Linked DNA regions of Homo sapiens. The protein of the gene in region 1 interacts with the protein of each later gene in a pairwise test. Each region holds a gene or a part of one and is shown in the gene's direction. Other genes may lie near its edges.

What was found. Proteins that work in one complex are often made in the same cells at the same time.
Region 2: the proteins of FRA10AC1 (region 1) and SAP30BP interact in a two-hybrid assay, tested with the Homo sapiens proteins (one large-scale study listed by BioGRID and IntAct).
Region 3: the proteins of FRA10AC1 (region 1) and GDPD2 interact in a two-hybrid assay, tested with the Homo sapiens proteins (one large-scale study listed by BioGRID and IntAct).
Region 4: the proteins of FRA10AC1 (region 1) and NKAP interact in a two-hybrid assay, tested with the Homo sapiens proteins (one large-scale study listed by BioGRID and IntAct).

The regions. Positions count from the first base shown.
Region 1 is NC_000010.11:93,677,966-93,682,981, reverse strand, and holds part of FRA10AC1 (protein FRA10AC1), read left to right. Parts: intron 1-1,383; coding exon 1,384-1,502; intron 1,503-5,016. UniProt on the Homo sapiens protein: May be involved in pre-mRNA splicing.
Region 2 is NC_000017.11:75,690,580-75,694,837, forward strand, and holds part of SAP30BP (SAP30-binding protein), read left to right. Parts: intron 1-91; coding exon of another isoform or gene 92-193; intron 194-814; coding exon of another isoform or gene 815-956; intron 957-2,860; coding exon 2,861-2,903; intron 2,904-4,258. UniProt on the Homo sapiens protein: Plays a role in transcriptional repression by promoting histone deacetylase activity, leading to deacetylation of histone H3.
Region 3 is NC_000023.11:70,421,127-70,426,113, forward strand, and holds the start of GDPD2 (glycerophosphoinositol inositolphosphodiesterase GDPD2), read left to right. Parts: upstream 1-2,187; 5' UTR 2,188-2,256; intron 2,257-3,849; 5' UTR 3,850-3,858; coding exon 3,859-3,963; intron 3,964-4,227; coding exon 4,228-4,331; intron 4,332-4,636; coding exon 4,637-4,730; intron 4,731-4,925; coding exon 4,926-4,985; intron 4,986-4,987. UniProt on the Homo sapiens protein: Has glycerophosphoinositol inositolphosphodiesterase activity and specifically hydrolyzes glycerophosphoinositol, with no activity for other substrates such as glycerophosphoinositol 4-phosphate, glycerophosphocholine, glycerophosphoethanolamine, and glycerophosphoserine.
Region 4 is NC_000023.11:119,933,752-119,938,009, reverse strand, and holds part of NKAP (NF-kappa-B-activating protein), read left to right. Parts: intron 1-1,327; coding exon 1,328-1,398; intron 1,399-1,578; coding exon 1,579-1,713; intron 1,714-3,452; coding exon 3,453-3,516; intron 3,517-4,258. UniProt on the Homo sapiens protein: Acts as a transcriptional repressor. Plays a role as a transcriptional corepressor of the Notch-mediated signaling required for T-cell development. Also involved in the TNF and IL-1 induced NF-kappa-B activation.

The DNA.
Region 1 (5,016 bases):
TATTAATTTTAAAATAGCTTTCTTTTTTTTAATCACATGGGTTGTCAAAAAATAACAGCTTTGTTATAAATGTGCCTATATAGTATTTTAGCTGTTAAAAATAAATGTTAAATAATATTTTTAATTCTTAAAATTAGCAGGATTATTTTTATTATTTTCATTATTCTTTATTTTTTTGAGACAAGGTCTCACTCTGTTGCCTAGGCTGAAGCACAGTGGTGTGATCATGGCTCATTGCAGCCTCAGCCTCCTGGGCTCAAGTGATCCTCACACCTCAGCCTCCAGAATAGCTGAGACTACAGGAGTACATCACCAAACCTGGATAATTTTTTTTTAAAGTTTTTGTAGAGATGGTGTTTCCCTATGTTGCCCAGGCTGGTCTCAAACTCCTGGACTCAAGCAGTCCTCCTGCCTCAGCCGCCCAAGGTGCTGGGATGATAGGCATAAGCCTCCACACTTGGCCAGAACTTTTTTGGATTACTGGAATAGCCTAAACCTTTATTTCCCCTTCCCATCAGTGATACTGAAAGAAAGCAGGGATTTGTTTTGACCTTGACTTTTGAGCTTCATTTCAAAATGGAAATGATTCTTACAAAATATGCAAAAGTGGTTAATGCATTAAATACTATTATAGCATTTAGTAGATGTACTTTAACTTGGAAAATCTACTGAACAAGTTTTTTGAAAGTAATCTTTTCCTTTGTCTCTATTCTCCTTGCCAGTCCCAATTTCAGCATTATCACTTTTTCCCATTTAGTATTTCTTTTCTTAACCTATTAAAATTAATTAATTGTTTGCCAACCTTGTAAACCTGCTCTAGAAGAGATAAAGCTGCAACAATAAGAGTATAAATTATAAGTGGCCTGATGTTGATATATGAATTAACAATAAGCCCTTTCCATTTTCATTCCATTATGCTTCTACTATATTCCTTTATTCTTAAGAGTAGAAATTTCTATTTACTGGTGGCTTAGAGCTGTTCAGCAGTTTCTTCTTCTTTGTGTTTTTTTAACATGTAGGTGGATATGGATTATGTGAAGGGAAATGAGGCTTTTTTTTGTAATTTAGTTTTAAATGGCTAAGTGATAGAATATAGAAAGAAAGAAACAAATACAATTATAATTTGTATTTACTATGGTCGTATACAGAACTTATAGAAAGTAATTATTTGTGTCAGTGTTAAGACTTCATTATCTTATAGAATGATTTTAATTAATATACAAGCATAAAATATTTACAGTCTCACTTAACGTTCCTTATTATATAAATCACATTTAAAAAATAAGTATTTTAACTGATTTTGGTTTTTTGTTCATATGATGGTTATTTTTGAAAAGGTCAGTTGGAAAAGTTAACTTTAATTTTATATTGTTTAACACAAAGGAGAAAAGAAATCAAGTCAAAAAAAAGAAAAGATAAAACCAAAAAAGACTGTGAAGAGTCATCACATAAAAAATCCAGATTATCTTCTGCAGAAGAGGCCTCCAAGAAAAAAGATAAAGGTAAAAGGAAATTAAGATAAGGCATCTACTCACATTTGTGAGCATGAAATATAATCTGCCATATTTCATTCATCTAATTGGTGAATGCATTGAGAATTTCATTTTATGGTAGTTGAGAGGAAACTGGCTGAGAATTTAGATATGAACTTAAAGTGACTTACAGGAGTTTTAAGAACTCCTCTAAATTAATTAAGGGTTAATTTTAGTTCATTTTTGGCAGATAGTATAATATTGCCAACAGTTTTCTAATTCCTGGCTTTGTCACCTACAGACTTGTTACTTTGCATCAGTCACTGAACTGCTTTATTTTTCTTATGTGTATAGGGGTGAGGTGCATACCTGGCCTTCATACTGGTCAAGCTTATTGTGGAAACTCAAATAAGAATGTGAAAGGGACTTTGATCAGTGCCTTTAAACAGTCTATAATCTATAAATCAATATAAAATTGTAACACTGATTTTATTTATAATGGCCTGTGTGACTTTTTTTACTAGTTTATGAGTTTCTAGAAATGAGAAAGATTGTCATATATCTGTGTTCTCAGAGCCTAGCATGGTGCTGTGCACCTATACTTAGAACTGCCTGCTTTTTCTTTAGCAGTCCTTAAGCTCGCTAAGACTCAATTTCTTCATGTGTAAAATGGTCTTGATTCCTTTTAGAATTGTTCAGAAGTTGAAACGAGATAATTCATTAAGCAGTTTGCATAGTACTTGGCACATATTAGCTATTATGAAGGTTACTTCTAGTTGCTTTTTTTAGCCCATAATAAAGTAGAGTCAATCGGCTGTAATTTATAGTGAATCAGACTAATCTAGATAGGTAATTGAATTAGATTCAAGCCAATGTTAATATAATATTTGGACAGGAGAGGGCTCTCTTGCTCCAGCTATGAAGATCATTAGCTATGTTGCATGCTTAGAAGCATTTACTTCTTCTTGCACATGGTAATATATTCATTATGTAGCAGAGTTTAAATCTGTGTGCCCTTGTGATACTGTCTACTCCCATAGCTTCAAGTATATGGTGTCACCAACCTTTAGACTTCGTAAAATTGATAGATGGTGAGAGGAAGATATTGTTATTTTATTGCTTATTGAGAGATGGCATTTGTAGCAGAATGCCTTTTTTGTCTCTATCTTAATTATTTTCCACTCTAAGGTAAATTTTAACCAATAAATGTTAAAAATATGTTTTGAGTTTTAAAAACTTATTTATCCTTATATGCTAGTAAAACATTTAATATGTCACTTAAGAAATTTGTTGCCCTCATTGTATTATATGTTCATTCTTATCACAACTGTGATACCATGTTAATCACTGCGTATTCCAAATGAAAGAACTAGTCTCTACTTTATAAAATGTTACTCAGTACAATCAAAGTAGATCAGGTAGATGAATGCTCAGGTTCAGGGCTAAGGTTGGACCCTTCGTATTATGCGTACATATGCACATGATCTTCCTTATAGACATTTTTCCCTTAGTGTTCTGTCAGTAGATGACACCTATGTTGACCTAAAAACTAATATCAGAAATCTGGGGATTATCCTTGATACTTTCTTTCCCCTTATTATTTATGTTTAATTTGTCACCAAGTCCTGTGAATTTTACCCCCAGAGTATATATTTCTCAAGTTCTCTCCACCCTACTACAAACCACTATATTTTCTCTTATAGGCTACTGTTATATTCTCCTTACGGGTTCCGCCTCTGTCTTGCCATCCCACCTTCCCTCCTCTTAATCCATTCTCCATAAATCAGTGATTTCCTGTTGTTTTTAGGCTGATAAGCAAAATCCTGGACAAAGCTAAAAGGTTCTCTGTGATCCAGAACTTGTGTACTATACAAGGCTTGTTTCTTACCACTCTGTACCTCACGTTCACACTCCCCCCATGTAGCCTTTCAGTTTCTGGAAAATGTCAAGCCTCTTTCAATTTTAGGGGTTACATGGATGCTGTGTCTTCTCTTCCTAAAACTCTCAGTTCTATCCCAGCTCATCCTTCAGGTCTAAGCTCTTAAATGTCATTTCCAAGGATCCTTTCCTGATTTCATCCCCCACCTTGAATCTAAATTAGGACTCTCATTTGTAATGCTGTCATGGCTCCTGACACTTTCCATTATTACACATATGACGATGTAAAAGCCAAAGAGGCAGAGATTCTGCCTGCTTTGTTCATTGCTATATCCCCAGCACCCCACTAGCTCATGTTCAGCATAAATAATAATCAGTAAAGGACTTTGAAGATTCTTCAGGGATAGAAGACCAAAGCAAGGTGGAATTGAGACATCTCTTTCTTATGTATTCTCTATTTAGAATGCCTTTGAAAGCAAAGTCTCTAGAAATATAGCTTTTTTACCCCCAACTTCTATGGTATATAACAGAAAATAACAAAATTTTAGCAAACTTTTAGGAAAACCATGTGGAACTCTTTAATATCTTATCTGGGATCATCTAGAATTAGCTTTATCATTGATTTGATTCTTTCTTGCCAGACCACCTTAATTTGGACCAGACTTGAAGAGTAATTAATAAACGCTTAACATCTCAGCTGCGTTTGGACTGTTGACAACTTCCTTTAATTTTATTTCTATCTTTCTGGCCTCTCTTTAGCTAATGCTTTTTTTTTTTTGTAAGACAGGGTCTTGTTCTGTCACCCAGGCCCCAGGCTGGAGTGCTGGAATACAGTGGCATGATCTTGGCTCACTGCAGCAGGCTTAACCTCGGAGGCCCATGTGATCCTCCTTTCTCAGCCTCCCAGGTAACTGGGACTACAGGCCTGCACTACCATACTCAGCTAATTTTGTTGTTGTTGTTGTTGCAGAGACAGGGTCTTGCTGTTTCCCAGACTGGTCTCAAACTCCTGGCCTCAAGCAATTCTCTCACCTTGGCCCCCCAAAGTGCTGGGATTACCAGCATGAGTCATCACACCCGACCTCCTTAGCTGCTTTTAACTGAAGTTCCTTCTCAGTCTTACATTTAGCTGTTAGAGTTCCTCGGGGCTCTTACCTAGATTTCTCTAGTTTCTCTCTGTACTCCCAGTGTAATCCCATCAACTCTCATAGCTTTAGGTTACCGTCTTAGAAAATGTTAAATAAGTAATAGATGGATGAACTAGATAGCTGAATGAATGGATAGAGAGAAAAAATAAGAAAGATCAGTAGCTGACTTTAAGGACCAGTCTGCTTTGGCAGGTATGAGGAGAACAAGATATTTAGGTAGACTGTCTTGGCAAAATGTTCAGAATCTTATCTGTCTCACCATCACCCCTTTCCCAAAAGCTACGTCATCCTTCAGGTTTCTGCTTAGCTCAATTCCTTGGAAAGGCCCTTCCTGACACCCTTCTCCTCACTTCTCCAAATAAGATTATGTTCCTCTTACATATTCCAATAATACCTGTCACTTCTCCTTTAGAAATACATAGTATCCTTGGAATAAATTGTTTATTTTCTGTAAGGGAAGGGACTGTGTGACATGTTTACTTCGTTATCTCTAATTCCTAATAGTGCTTGCTCCCATA
Region 2 (4,258 bases), on another chromosome or scaffold:
AAGTGCTGGGATTACAGGCGTGAGCCACTGCGCCTGACCAAGCGAGCACTTTAGGATCCAGAGAACTTAGGTTGTTGTCTTTCTTCTTTAGGAGAAGCTCGGCACAGTGACAGAGGCACCCAGGGCTCAGCAAGCTCATGGCCCAGCTTGTTGGACTCAGAGGGCAGAAGAATCACATTCTAAACATGATAAGGTATAGCCAGCAGGAGGCAGATTCCCAGATTGATTCTCCAGAGCCTTGTAGGTCCCAAGGGTGCCTATGACACCAATGGGAATCTGAACCAACACAGACAGCACAGTCTTCTTAGGAGACCCTAGTGCAGCAGCGCTGGCCTCCTCCTGAGCGTGCACGCTTATATGGCTTCTGAGCTGGCCAGGCTACTTCATGCATTTGGTTTAATGGGTCCTCGTAAGGCAGGAGAATCTTCTTGAACTTGGAGTTGGGTCTGTGGTCCATTGGTCAGTACTTTGTTCAGAGGCACTGAGGGTGGGAAGGCTCATGGAGCTGGATTCTGCTGCTGGGAAGCTGGGTGGGCCTTGTTTGTGGGCCTCAGGTTCAGGACTGAATGAGAGTCCTCTTGTTGCGAGTTGAGGGTGTACTCTGGGCATGCCATGCCCTTTTTTTGTACTAAGAGGGTAGAAAAGCAAAGACCAGACTAGTTGGCAAATTGGAACCCAACTACCCAGTTTATTTATTTCTTAGGCGTAGAAGGAATAATTTAGGGGGAACTGAAGAGCCAACCTAAAGGAAAAAAATAAAATAAAGGGATAAAATACTTCCTGTGATTTTGCCCCATCATCTCTTTTCTTCCAGAGACGTGACTCAACAACCTCAGCTGAGCCTGGCAGCACACACACCCCACACTCCTTTCCATCTCCAGGTTCACAAAAGCCACAAGAAGCCACGGGGAGGCTCCTGGCCTCTTACTTTACCTAAGGAGGCCCTGAAGTGGCAAGTGTGTTTCCCCTTGAAGAGCCATTGCATGTTTGGTGACTAACTTCCTGTGGCTTTGGGGTAGACATGGTAGACTCCTTGTGTGGGGATTGGGCCTCTGCAGTTGAGTCCATGAGAAGGGGTGGGTGTGGTATGGTGCGGAGCCTTGGGGAAGGGTGAGTGGGGGCTGGAGGGAGAGTTAACGAATGGTCAGTCCCTGTATGATCAGCCAGCTGGCGGGTGAGGGAGGAGCTGATGTTTTCCTACAATCAGCACCCAGAAAGCTGTTCTCTAGAGGGAAAATGTGAGGGCATTTTACAGTCCCATGTATTGTTACTAACACTCTTGAACACTGGTTTCCTGAGAGTCACTGCTACAAAGGGATTGTTGGTCCCCTGAGAGACTGGCAGTCTCTATAGGGCTGCTGATTTATGACTGCGGCAGTCTCTATAGAGCCGCTGATTTATGACTGCAACCTGAAGTTGGTGTGGCAGTCCTCCAGGCGCGCCTCCCTGCCTGCTCCCAGCCTCCTCTTTGCCCACCTGATTGGCAGGGGGCAGTGGCTCGAAGAGATGGGTTGCTAAGCAGCCTGGCCTGGACGTGGTGCCCTGCCAGGTTGAATGAATAGCTGCAGTGTTCTGAGGAATGGGGAATTTGGCCTGTCCCAGCATCAGGAGGGACTTTCTGGAAAGGGGGCTAAGACTGAGTCTAGGTTCAGTGTGGGGAACTGGGTGGCCTTCCTGGCACCTTCCTTTTGGAGCCGTGGCGTGGTGTGCCATGTCTGTGTAAGTGGAGCCTGCGGAGCTCTGCACCTGTCCTCGAAAAGGTCTTGTTGCAGGGTCTTCCTGTCTCATCTCCTCCCTCACTCATCAGCAGGAAAAGACATGGCGTCCAGCAACTTTCTGTGAACTCTGCCTCTGCTGTTTTGATGATGAGCACGTGTGGCCCTTGAGATTGTTGATCTAACTGGCTTTGAGGGGCTGGGTGTCAGCAACCCAGAAATGGGGGAAACAGGTGTGTTCTTGCCATTTTACACTTGAGACAATGGAGGCAAGGGAAGACTTGTGACGGAGGGCTTGGACCGTGGCTTTCTCAGCATTGATTTTGGTTTAGATGAAACATTTACTACAGAACAGTGAAATCCAGAAAACGTCTAAGAAGCCTTTGCTCTCAGGTTTCTGCAGGACATGTGGATGTAGCTGTCATGGGACACTGTTTGCATTAGGGATTGGAGGAAGCTTTTCTTTGGAGGGAGTATAAAGCCAGTGTAAAGGGAGCTGAGAGCCAGAGAGAGGCTTCCTTGAGCCTGGGGCCTCTCTGGGATCCCCATTCTGCCACTTATTAAAGGTTTGCTGCATGCTTGCTCTGAGGTTCCATGAGCTGCCCCTTTATCCTCATGATGAAGCCTCCCTTCTTTGAACTAAAAATAAGAAGAGTATCTTGGGAGCAGCTAGTCTGCATTTTCATCTCGGGAGTCTGCTGTTACAAAGCAGTCACCTCTTGCTTCCTTGGTACCAGCGGTAGAGGTGGTGATGTCTGGGCTGGCCGGGCCCTTGAGCTCTGCACTCCATTCAGGCAAGCTTCCTCAGACCCAGGGGAGAGCAACAGGCAGGGTATACGTTGCCCAGTTGGCTGCAGCAGGCTTGCTGGCTTGTGTTCTCCTCAGCGATGGTGGGTTTGGTCACTGAAAAGGCATGGAGGAGAGACCGGCGTGGGGCTCGGGAGCATCCGGCTGCTGCGATGCGGGAAGAAGAGGGTTCGGAGGCTCGGGGGTGCCAGAGGCCCCTGAAGCATCAGCTTACCCTTAGTGTTCCTGGCAGTGCTTTTACTTTTTCTCCTTCCTTAAAAATCCTGAGTGGTCTCAGTAGAGAGTAGCTGGTTCAGGAGCCCCAGTCTTACCTCCTCGTATTTGTTTGTCTTTTGCAGGATAATACAGAAGCAGAAAAGCGAGACCCCCAGGAACTCGTGGGTGAGTATTGGGGGATCCTGGGGGCACGTTTCTCAGCCTTGCTCCTAGCAGCCTGGCTTCCAGCCATGCCAGGCCTGCCGCCCCACAGGGCTTCTGTCTGCTGTGAGCACTGTTGTCCCTTTGGCTCCCTCTCAGGGCTTTGGCATTTCCTAGGATGCCCGGGTGAGACGTCCAGGGAACAGTTCTTCTTTGGAAATCATATTTGTGGTGTGTTTTAATGGGCTTTGGTCGGTTGCCAGCGCTGTCAAGAGGGAATTCAGGGCACTCAGCTGGGAGCGTGTCTTGGTCTCTGCTTCCCCTAGTGCCCTGGGCTTGTCCTCTGTCTTTGCAACCCCTCCTCCCCCTCTCCGCTGGCATATGCATGCTGCTCAGGGAGTCAGCATGTGGCCTCTGCTGGCACTTTGCTCTGTCCCCAGGCAGGAACATGCCTCACAGCCCTGGAGTCTGGGGCTCTTTGTGATTTGGGAGGAGCAGGGACACTATGTTTCTGGAAAACAGCATACATCATCCAAGTCCTGTGCTAGCCCCAGCCTTTTAATCCTTTTAGAAAGCCCCCCAGCTCCTTTCACGTGGCTCCCAAAGCCCGACCGGGGGGCAGTTCCCGGCATCTGAGTCAGAGCTCTTGGTGGGGTTGGCCCTCCCTCTCTGTGGCAACCATTACCAGCTCTCCTGTCCGTCCTGCTGATCTTCACAAACAGGCTCCTGCCTCCTGCGGTCTTGCCTCGGTGGCTCACTGACTCCAGCCCTGGGGGTTCTGAGCCCAGGGACCACCTGGAAGCGCTGCCCCAGTAGTCAGTCCTTCCCACCCAGGCTTCCTCCCAGTAGGGCCTTTCTGCTGGGAGTTCTGCTACAAAGCCTGTTCTCCTTTTCCAGAACTAAAGGAGCTAGGAATCGTTCATTCTATTTGTCTTTTGAAGAAGGATTGGGTGGGAACACGGTAACGCTGAGCAGCCCAGACCCTCAGCAGGAGGGCCTTAATCCCTGGCCTCTCTGATGGAGTTTCAGTCTTTCAAATCCTATAAAAACCAAGATTTTCCTAAAACCTAGAGTTTCTTCTTTAGAAAGTGACGCCTTAGGGGTGCAACATTTGGCTTTGAGGGCAGAGGAAGCAGAGTGTGCATCTGCTGGGAAGCCGATGGCCGGCCCAAGGGGGCGATCCACGGGTCGGGCGTGGACGGGAGCCTTGGCCTCTTATCCCCGCCATCACCCGAGCCGACCCTGCTGTTTACTGTGAGAAACTACACGGCTGGGGATCAGAGAGCAGCCTGTCACGTGCCAACGCAGAGATGCCCTTGCTCTTGCTAGTAGTGCTGGGCAGGCAGTGGAATGTGTGTGGGCATCAGCCATCTCAGCCC
Region 3 (4,987 bases), on another chromosome or scaffold:
TACAGTTTTATTTGTTCTTCATACACACACAAAAAGGTCAACATAGATAGATGTCCTTATTTTGCAGATGAGGAAACTGGGGTATAAAGAAGTAACTTACCCAAAGTCACAAAGCTAGTGAGCAATAGAGCTAGGACCTGAACGCAGAGCTACCATCCAAGCTTCACTCTAGCCAACTCTCTAGAGTGCCAGCAGCAGCCACTTCTAATGCCCTGCAGCCTAATTTCTTAGTGTAGGAGGGGCGTTGCACCACACTGCTGTCCAGTCCCAGGACAGAACAGCACTGGCTCCTTGCATTCTCCTTTGAAAGATGCTTACGCCTTACAGTCTATCAGTGTTCTCTATCTCTGCTTAAAGCTAAAAGGGGGCCAGCCCTGGAATGCCATACACAAGCTGCTGACTGGCCTTGTAGCCTTCTGAGGTAGATGCTCACAAGCCCTGCGCTTCATATCCATGCATTCTGAATCCCAAAACCCTTCTCCCCAAAAAAGCTCCCAAACCATCCCCAAACACTCAAAAGCCAAGACTCCTCTAGAATCCACCAGAGCCCAAGCAAAAGAAATTGAGCAACAATCTGCCTAGAATGAAGCCTGCCATGGACTAGGTGACCTGCTGGTCCTCCCTGGCCTCCTGCCAGCAAGCAGCCCTGCTTCTCTTTGCATTTTAATGCCGAGGGAGCAAGGGAGCCTCTGCCATTGCCAACTAGAGCCTCTGGATACAATGGGAAGCCTGAGTGGGAGGGGGGCCAGCTCTTGGCATAAGAGAGCCAGTCTTCCTTCTCACTGTTTGAAATCCAGTGTGTGTTGGGGGAGGGGTAAGCAGGCTTATCCCCAGAGAAAACATCCTTTCCCACCAACACTGCACTAATAGCCCCCAGACCTCGAGTCACCACATCAGGCGTAATGTAGAGGGAGAGGTCAACCAAGCCAGCCCCTGGCCCCCATCCCACCCAGACCCCTGTGCTTTAGCACTAAGCAAACTATAGTGTGCTAGCCAGCCCTTCCCTGCTGATGCTGATGCTATAGTAACAGCATCTTTTCTATGTGTTCATCTTCCAAAAGCCTGTGACCCCAATATACTCTACACTCCTCAAAAGATTCTTGGAAAGAGACTCATATGCCTTAGGGACAAGGCAGCAGAAATGACACAAGTCCTGAATGAGCATCTCCTGTCTGGGGTGATGAGGGAAGGTGGGAGAACTGCTAGTGTCACCCAGGATCCACAAGGCCCATGGGGACCTCTGGTCCAGAAACGGCAACTTGCTATCCAGAGTTCAGGAAGTAGCTTGCAGCTTCTGTTGCCCAGGCTGGAGCACAGTAGCACAATCTCAACTCACTGCAGCCTCGACGTCCTGGGCTCAAGCAATCCTCCCACATCAGCCTCCCAAGTAGCTGGGACAAATGACCAAGGCTTGTCTTTGCTTTAAACCTGGCCTTGTGAGATGTCCCATGCAACTACCTAGTCTTTGGTAGGTGCACACCATCATGCCTGGCTAATTTTTGTATTTTTTGTAGAGACAGGGTTTCACCATGTTGGCCAGGCTGGTCTTGAACTCCTGACCTCAGGTGATCCACCCGCCTCGGCCTCCCAAAGTGTTGGGGTTACAGGTGTAAGACACCGCGCCAGGCTGCAGCTTCTTATACATGCACCTTGCTGAATTAGAAGTAGGAGCTCAATAGGGGAGGGAGCCTAATGAATCAAGGCTGTATTTCCAGGGAGCTTGAGACTTGATGTTAGGCTTACACACACGCACACACACACACACACACACGCCTTTCCAGTGGGCTGGCTGGGCCTCTTCTCCTCACTGCCAAGTTGCAAAGTTGTGTGGTCACCTCCCCCCCCCACACACACCAGCTTCCCGCCAGCCTGTGCCCTCAGCCCTCGCCTCCCTGAGCCAGGACAAAGCCCCGGCAGTGACTGGGAGGGGAACAGGAGGAGGGACAGAGGGATGGGAAAGCCTGCACAAAGGAATTCCTCACCCCAAGCCCCCTGACCGCCAGCGAGTAAAGAAGCAGATTTGCTCTCCCTCCCGCTTCCTCCCTCCCATCTTCCCACCCGGGCTGTGCCCAGGCCACAGAGCAGCTGCAGGCCTTGGGAGAGGACCCACACAGCCTCCTGTAGGTGGCAACAGTGCCACCTGTTTGACTCATAGGGCTGAACCGAGGACTGAAAAAGGGAGGAGGCAGACCACTCGGAGAGGAGCTGGGAAGCAGTGCAGAGAGGAGAGCGGAGCGGAGCTGCCGCTGAGCAAAGGTGTGAGGGTTCGGGAAGGCTGGGGGGCTACAGGTGGGAGCTGTGGAGCAGAGACCAGCTCCATCCCACTGGGATTGGGCCGGGGGATTGAATGGCACCCCTGTCAGCAACCCTACTTGGGGTTTTCAGGCTGCTCAGACCCTGATCCCATCCTACAGGCAGCTCCTGAAGGGAGGGGACTCTGGAAGGCAGTGTCTGGGGTGCAGGGGTAGGACCCCAGGGGAGGCAAGAGCTTAGAGCAGGCTATCAAACCAGCTCCAAGATGGGCAGAGGCAAGGGCTTCCCTTTGGGTTGGCTTTTTACCGGGAAGGGTCTCGTAGAGGGGAGGGGTTTCCTTCCCCCAGCTCCAGCTCCTCACCCCTACCCTAACCCTCCTTTCCCAAGGCAGCATAAAGAGGGCAGTTCAGAAGCAGCCACACCTTCCTGCTTACCGGACCCACCCACTGTGCACCCCTCTAAGACTCCATAGCCTCGGGAGAGCTCTGAGGACAAGAGGTCCTGTCCCTCAGCCCGCACGCACACATGCTCACACACTTTGGGTGTATCCAGGGGCTCCTTTACATACTCAAAGTCACCTAAAATCATATTGTACCGACAGCCAGTTGTGCTGTCGCGTGCAAATGCTGACACAAATCACATACCGTCTCGCGTAGAATCAGTCACGTACCCAGCCAAGTCTGGGGATCAGCTCAGTCAGCCAAACCCAGAAGCATAAGGTACAGGGGTCCCCTGCCCCAAGACAACCACACCCCGCATACACACCTTTGCCCTGCGTTTGTTGTACTTTCACCAAAGCTAACTTAGAGGGTGGGGCTCCTAAAGGCGAGTCTGGGCTTCTGGTTGGGGTTGGGGGATGACTGGGCAGGAAAGGGCAGGACTTGAGGGGAGGCTCTGTATTTTGAAAATCCAAAGATTCCTTTAGAAGACTGGGAGTGACCCAGGCAACATGTTCACCTCAAGTCTTTCTCTTTTTGGCAGTGCCCTTTGTCCCCTGAGAGGTGGACACAGAGAATCTTTCAGGGATTTGTGATCTGAATAATCTCTATAACCATAGCAACTGGCCAACTAGCTGGGCCTTCCTTAGCCCCAGGTCAGAACTGTAACCTTTGCTTCAGGTTACTCCTGCTTCCTGGGCTGGAAAGCAATTCAACATGGGGTTGCCTCCAGCTTGGCCAAACCTGCTTTAACTTGCTGAACTGAGTTTGTCCCACCCTGGGCAGTTTCTCTTGAGTTCTTACCCCCAGGGCAAGCACTCCATCCCCAGAGGTGTGTGCTGTTAAATGGGGAGGAGCTGGAGAGAGTGGATATGAATCCTGCCCGAAAAGAGGCTGGACCTCTTGGGTGTCCCACTGACTCTCCAGGTAACAAGATTAAAGGGAAACGAAGGCTCTGGAGACTGTCTCCCATTGCCAGGCTTGCAGCTGGGGCTGCTCGCCTCATCCACTCTGGCACTCTGGGCCTGCCCCGTGACCTCCGTTGCTGAGCAGCGGCCCAGGCCTCTGCCTCTCCCCCGGGCTCCTCAGATACACTAGGAGGGAGACTGGGATCTGCCCTCTGCCAGGGTCCCTGATGGTCGAGTGTCCCTTCCCCCAGGCCTTCACCATGGCCGAGTCCCCCGGCTGCTGCTCCGTCTGGGCCCGCTGCCTCCACTGCCTGTATAGCTGCCACTGGAGGAAATGCCCCAGAGAGAGGATGCAAACCAGCAAGGTGGAGTAGGGATGGAGGGGGGAGGCTGGAAGTCAGAAGGCAGAGGCTCACTGGAGGGGATAAGGAGGCCAATTGTGCTCATAGACAGCTTGGGGGAAGGGGCTCTCTCTCCCAGGAAGAAAATCTCCCTCAAATATGGAAAGAGCTGCCCCCCGAGCAGAGCAGCCCAACACGGGGCAGGCAGCTCCCTTTAGCTGCCACCCGTTGGGGACTCTGAGTTTGAAGTAGGTATTGGTTGTGAGTTTCTCTCCTGCCCCTTTGCAGTGCGACTGTATCTGGTTTGGCCTGCTCTTCCTCACCTTCCTCCTTTCCCTGAGCTGGCTGTACATCGGGCTCGTCCTTCTCAATGACCTGCACAACTTCAATGAGTGTGTCATGGATTCCCCCTGCTTCCCCAGCATACCTGTCAACCTGCTCCCCACCCTGGGACCCGGGGGTGGCCCACTGTCAGTCATCCCCCAGCCCTGCCCAGCTGCTCAAACCCAGCTCTGCTGCTACCCAATCTCCTTAGAAAATCCCTCCACAAAATCTCCTCAATCCTTGGAGCCCCTGGCCACGAGGGGCTTTCTCCTCACTCCCTTCTAGTCTTCCTGGATCCACCCACCCCACCTCCCCTCAGGCCACTATTGACACCCCTTCCCCCACTTGGACACCTCCCTCTCCCCTCCCACAGATTCCTCTTCCGCCGCTGGGGACACTGGATGGACTGGTCCCTGGCATTCCTGCTGGTCATCTCTCTACTGGTCACATATGCATCCTTGCTATTGGTGGGTCCGGAGGCCGCTGGCCTAACCCCACCTCAGCCTTCCTTCCTGCTTAGTTTTAGCTCCCTATTCTCATCCTGGCCACTGAGGGAGGGGGCTAATTCTTGGGTAGGAGGGAAGTACCAGCCTGGGAAGCCCACCTCAGTAACCTTGCTCCCCTCTTGGCACCCCATAAGTCCCACTGCTCTCTTCCTCTAGGTCCTGGCCCTGCTCCTGCGGCTTTGTAGACAGCCCCTGCATCTGCACAGCCTCCACAAGGT
Region 4 (4,258 bases), on another chromosome or scaffold:
TTTGCTTATTTCTTTTCTCTTTGATGCTACTCATAAGTTTCTTCTTCCCTCTCTGTTTCTGTGCCAACTTTAGGTTGAGTTGAGACAATGTGCTTGACAGGTAAACCTGTAATTTGTGATTGGATAATAAAGCATTATTATCTGAAACTTGTTCTTACAGATACCTTTAGAAAATGCTTGAAGAGGCCAGGTGCGGTGGCTCACGCCTGTAATCACAGCACTTTGGGAGGCCAAGGCAGGTGGATTCCTTGAGCCCGGGAGTTCAAGACCAGCCTGGGCAAATAACAAGACTATTTAAAAGAAAAAAAAAAGAAAACACTTGAAGAACCTGAATGTATTGAATTAGAGTTGGAAGGAACCCTAAAAATAGTTTTCTTTCTTCTTTTTTTTTTTTTTTTTTTTGAGACAGAGTCTTACTCTGTCACTCAAGCTGGAGTGCAGTGGTGCGATCTTGGCTCACCATAACCTCCGCCTCCCAGGTTCAAGTGATTCTCCTGCCTCAGCCTCCCGAGTAGCTGGGATTACAGGTGCATGCCACCATGCCTGGCTAATTTTTGTATTTTTAGTAGAGATGGGGTTTCACCATGTTGGTCAGGCTGGTCTTGAACTCCTGACCTCATGATCCGCCCACCTCGGCCTCCCAAAGTGCTGGGATTACAGGCGTGAGCCACTGCACCCAGCCAAAATAATTTTCTAGATAATATTTAAATTACTCCAAGTATGATCTTCAGAGGAAAAGATTATATGATGTGGAAACTCCTTTTCTAAACTATTGTAGAATTTGAATAATACTCATTTTCAGAATTCTCTGCAACAGAACAACATCTCTTTAGACTGTAGTTTGTTAGGTTTTTGCTCTGAGGAGACAGAACAGTTGCTGCTTTACCATTTGTCTTTTACGTGCTTAAAATAAAATTATAAAGTCTTTCTTCAGCCTTCTTATACCCAGTTTCTTTAATCTTTCCTATGGTTCCTGTTTCTCTACTTTTTCCCTGTGGTTTCTTGTGAAAATATAAATCCTCCATGCTGCTTTGTTTAAATAGTACTATGTAAACTCTAAAGTGTTATGCAAATGATAAGTTATTTTATTATTACAAAGATGGTAGACCCTTGAACTGCACGTTTATGAAAGTAGTTCAGTGCTTGCTTTGTTGTTGTTTTGGTTTTTTTGATTCCCAAGTTCTGCCTTAGGATCTCCAATGCTTGCTTTTAATGGTTCTTGGACAATCGATGCTGTTACTGAAAAATTTGGAGTTCATATCTTTACACTCCATGGTCCATATCTCATCACTTTCCTAATTCTTATAACCATTTTATTTAAATTCAGTTCTGATGAACATACACCAGTGGAGGATGAAGAGCCAAAGAAAAGCACTACTTCAGCTTCTACTTCAGAAGGTATTTTTAAAAAAAGGGTATTTTTAAAATACAAGCTATTTTATTGAGAGATTTAAAAAAATCAGTTTGTAAATAGTTGAACATTAGACTTTGCTTTTACTCAAATTGCCCATCGTCTGTTTCTTTTGATGTTCAGAAATAGTTTTTTAGAATATAATTTTTTAATTTGTACTTTCTTAGAAGAAAAAAAGAAGAAGTCTAGCCGTTCAAAAGAAAGGTCCAAGAAAAGGAGAAAGAAAAAATCATCGAAAAGAAAACATAAGAAGTATTCTGAAGATAGCGACAGTGACTCTGATTCTGAAACAGACTCCAGTGGTAAGAACGCCAACAGCATTCTGCAAGCCTTGCTTCAAAACTAGTTTTACTTCTTAAAACTTATTTTAGAAGAAGGTTCCTGAAAACAATAATAATACTGAAGAGTTTTTGAACACTTGCTAACCTTGTGCCAGGTACCCCAATAAGTGCTTTATATTTATTATTGCCATTTAATCCATACAATAACTGTAGGGTACATCTTATAGATGAGGAAATGGAGACAGAGCAGGTTATAAGTACTATCCCTAAGGTCACACAGTTTGGATTCAAACCTAAGCAATCTGACTCCGGATTGGGATTGGTTGTGCAAAGTGTACAAGGCACATGGCACCAGACCAAGTCAGGGGGTTGGGCTGTACCAAAGTAAGCCTTACAGGGCTGCATCGGCCCAGTGGAAGGGCTCTTTTGTTTAATTCTCATGCCCAATGAGCACCTCTACAGTTTTCAAAAAGGTATGCCATAAAGTGCCTACTTCATGCTGGCTGCCTATTTGTGGAAGGCACCCTATCTGGGGTAGTGCATCACAAAGAGTCTCCTTTTTGTACTCTCTCCTGGCTGATGATTGACCAGAAGGTGCCTCCTCTGAGGTTAACACATTACACAAAGATTCACCTTCCTCTGATATCGCCGAAGTTTCCTGGCCCTCCCTGTCACTTCTCTTCCTCAGTGCTCGAAGACAGAACTTTCAAATATTTCTGTATGCAACACTTAAAAAGAGGCATTTTTATACTTAACTACAACACTATCTCATACAATAAAATTAGTAATAATACCCTATACACCAAATACCTACTTAAAATCCTTCAATAGCACTCCATAGCCTTCAGGGTAAAGTTCAGACCCTGACTCATTTCTCTCTAATCACATATACCCTGTTACACTCTCTTGCAACATCCTCTGTAATCTGAAAACTACTTTCTGTCTCCTCAGTATTCCATGTTCTTTCTCTTGTTACTTGGTAGAGAGGCCCTCTGCCTACAATGCCAGTCTCTCCCTCCATCCAGCTTGGTTTACTCATTGCACCAATGGGCATGCATTACTTTTGTAATCAAAGAACTACTTTAAGAGTCACCTTTCCTGATCAACCATTCCTCAGCCACCCTCCTCAAATCAGTCTGATTTTGAGACTCCTCTGTGTGTCCAGGTTCCCCAAGCTTCCCTCTATCATTCCAGATTGTATTGATCTCTTTACCTATCTGTCTCCTCCATTAGACTGAGCTCCAGGAAAGGATTCTCTCTCCCCTCTCCAACACACACATAGTTTTCTTTCCCTTTTTATCACAAAAATATTTAAATATTCAGAAAAGCGAAGAGAATAGTATAATTAATACCATATACTTAATCACCTAGATTTGGCAGTTGTTGGTATTTTTACATATTTGCTTCAAATATGGGTTTTTCACTGAGATAGTCAAAGTTAATTACAAATATCATCACACTTCCACCCTAAATATTTCTGTATGCATCCCGTAAAAAGAGGCATTTTCCTAATTAGCCACCACACTATCTCACACAATAAAATTAATAATAATACCCTATATCATCAAAACCTAGTGACTTTAATTTCTATGTTCATAGTACCTCCCTACAGTTCGTGACAAATAGCAATAAATGTTTCAATGAGGTAATTTCTTTGTAACAATAAATGGGACAGCAATAGGATAGTTACCTACTCAAAAGTACTACGGTTTTAGAGTTAAAAAATTTTTTTCTTAATTGTAATGTGCTTTAATTTGCAGATGAAGATAACAAAAGGAGAGCAAAGAAAGCCAAGAAAAAGGAAAAGAAGAAGAAACACAGATCGTCAGTTTTTTAAGTTTTATTATGGAAAATTTCTTTTCTTTTTTTTTTTTTTTTTTTTTTTTTGAGACAGAGTCTCACTCTGTCAGGCAACAGAGTGCAGTGGTTCGATGTCAGCTAACTACAACCTCCGCCTCCCAGGTTCAAGCGATTCTCATGTCCCAACCTCCCGAGTAGCTGGGATTATAGGCACCCACCACCATGCCTGGCTAATTTTTGTGTTTTTAGTAGAGATGGGGCTTCACCATGTTGGCCAGGCTGGTTTCGAACTCCTGACCTCAAGTGATCCTCCCACCTTGGCCTCCCAAAGTGCTGGGATTACAGGAGTGAGCCACTGCACCCGGCCAGAAAATTTCAAATGCATATAAAATTACATAAAATAGTATAATGATCCTTCCTGCACCTGTCATGCAGTCTAAATAATTATCAACTCATGGGCAGTATCTGCCATCCATCATTTATTTTGGACCCAATCTCAGATATCATTCCATCCATAAGCAATTCAGTACCTTTCTCTAAAAGATAGGCATTCTTTTTGTTTTGTTTTGTTTTTTTTGAGATGAAGTCTCGCTCTGTCGCCCAGGCTGGAGTGCAGTGGCGCGATCTCGGCTCACTGCAAGCTCCGCCTCCCGGGTTCACAAAGATAGGCATTCTTTAAAACAAAACAAAACAAAAAACTGGCCAGGCACAGTGGCACATATCTGTAATCTCAGCACTTTGGGAGGCCAGGCAGGAGGATCGCTTG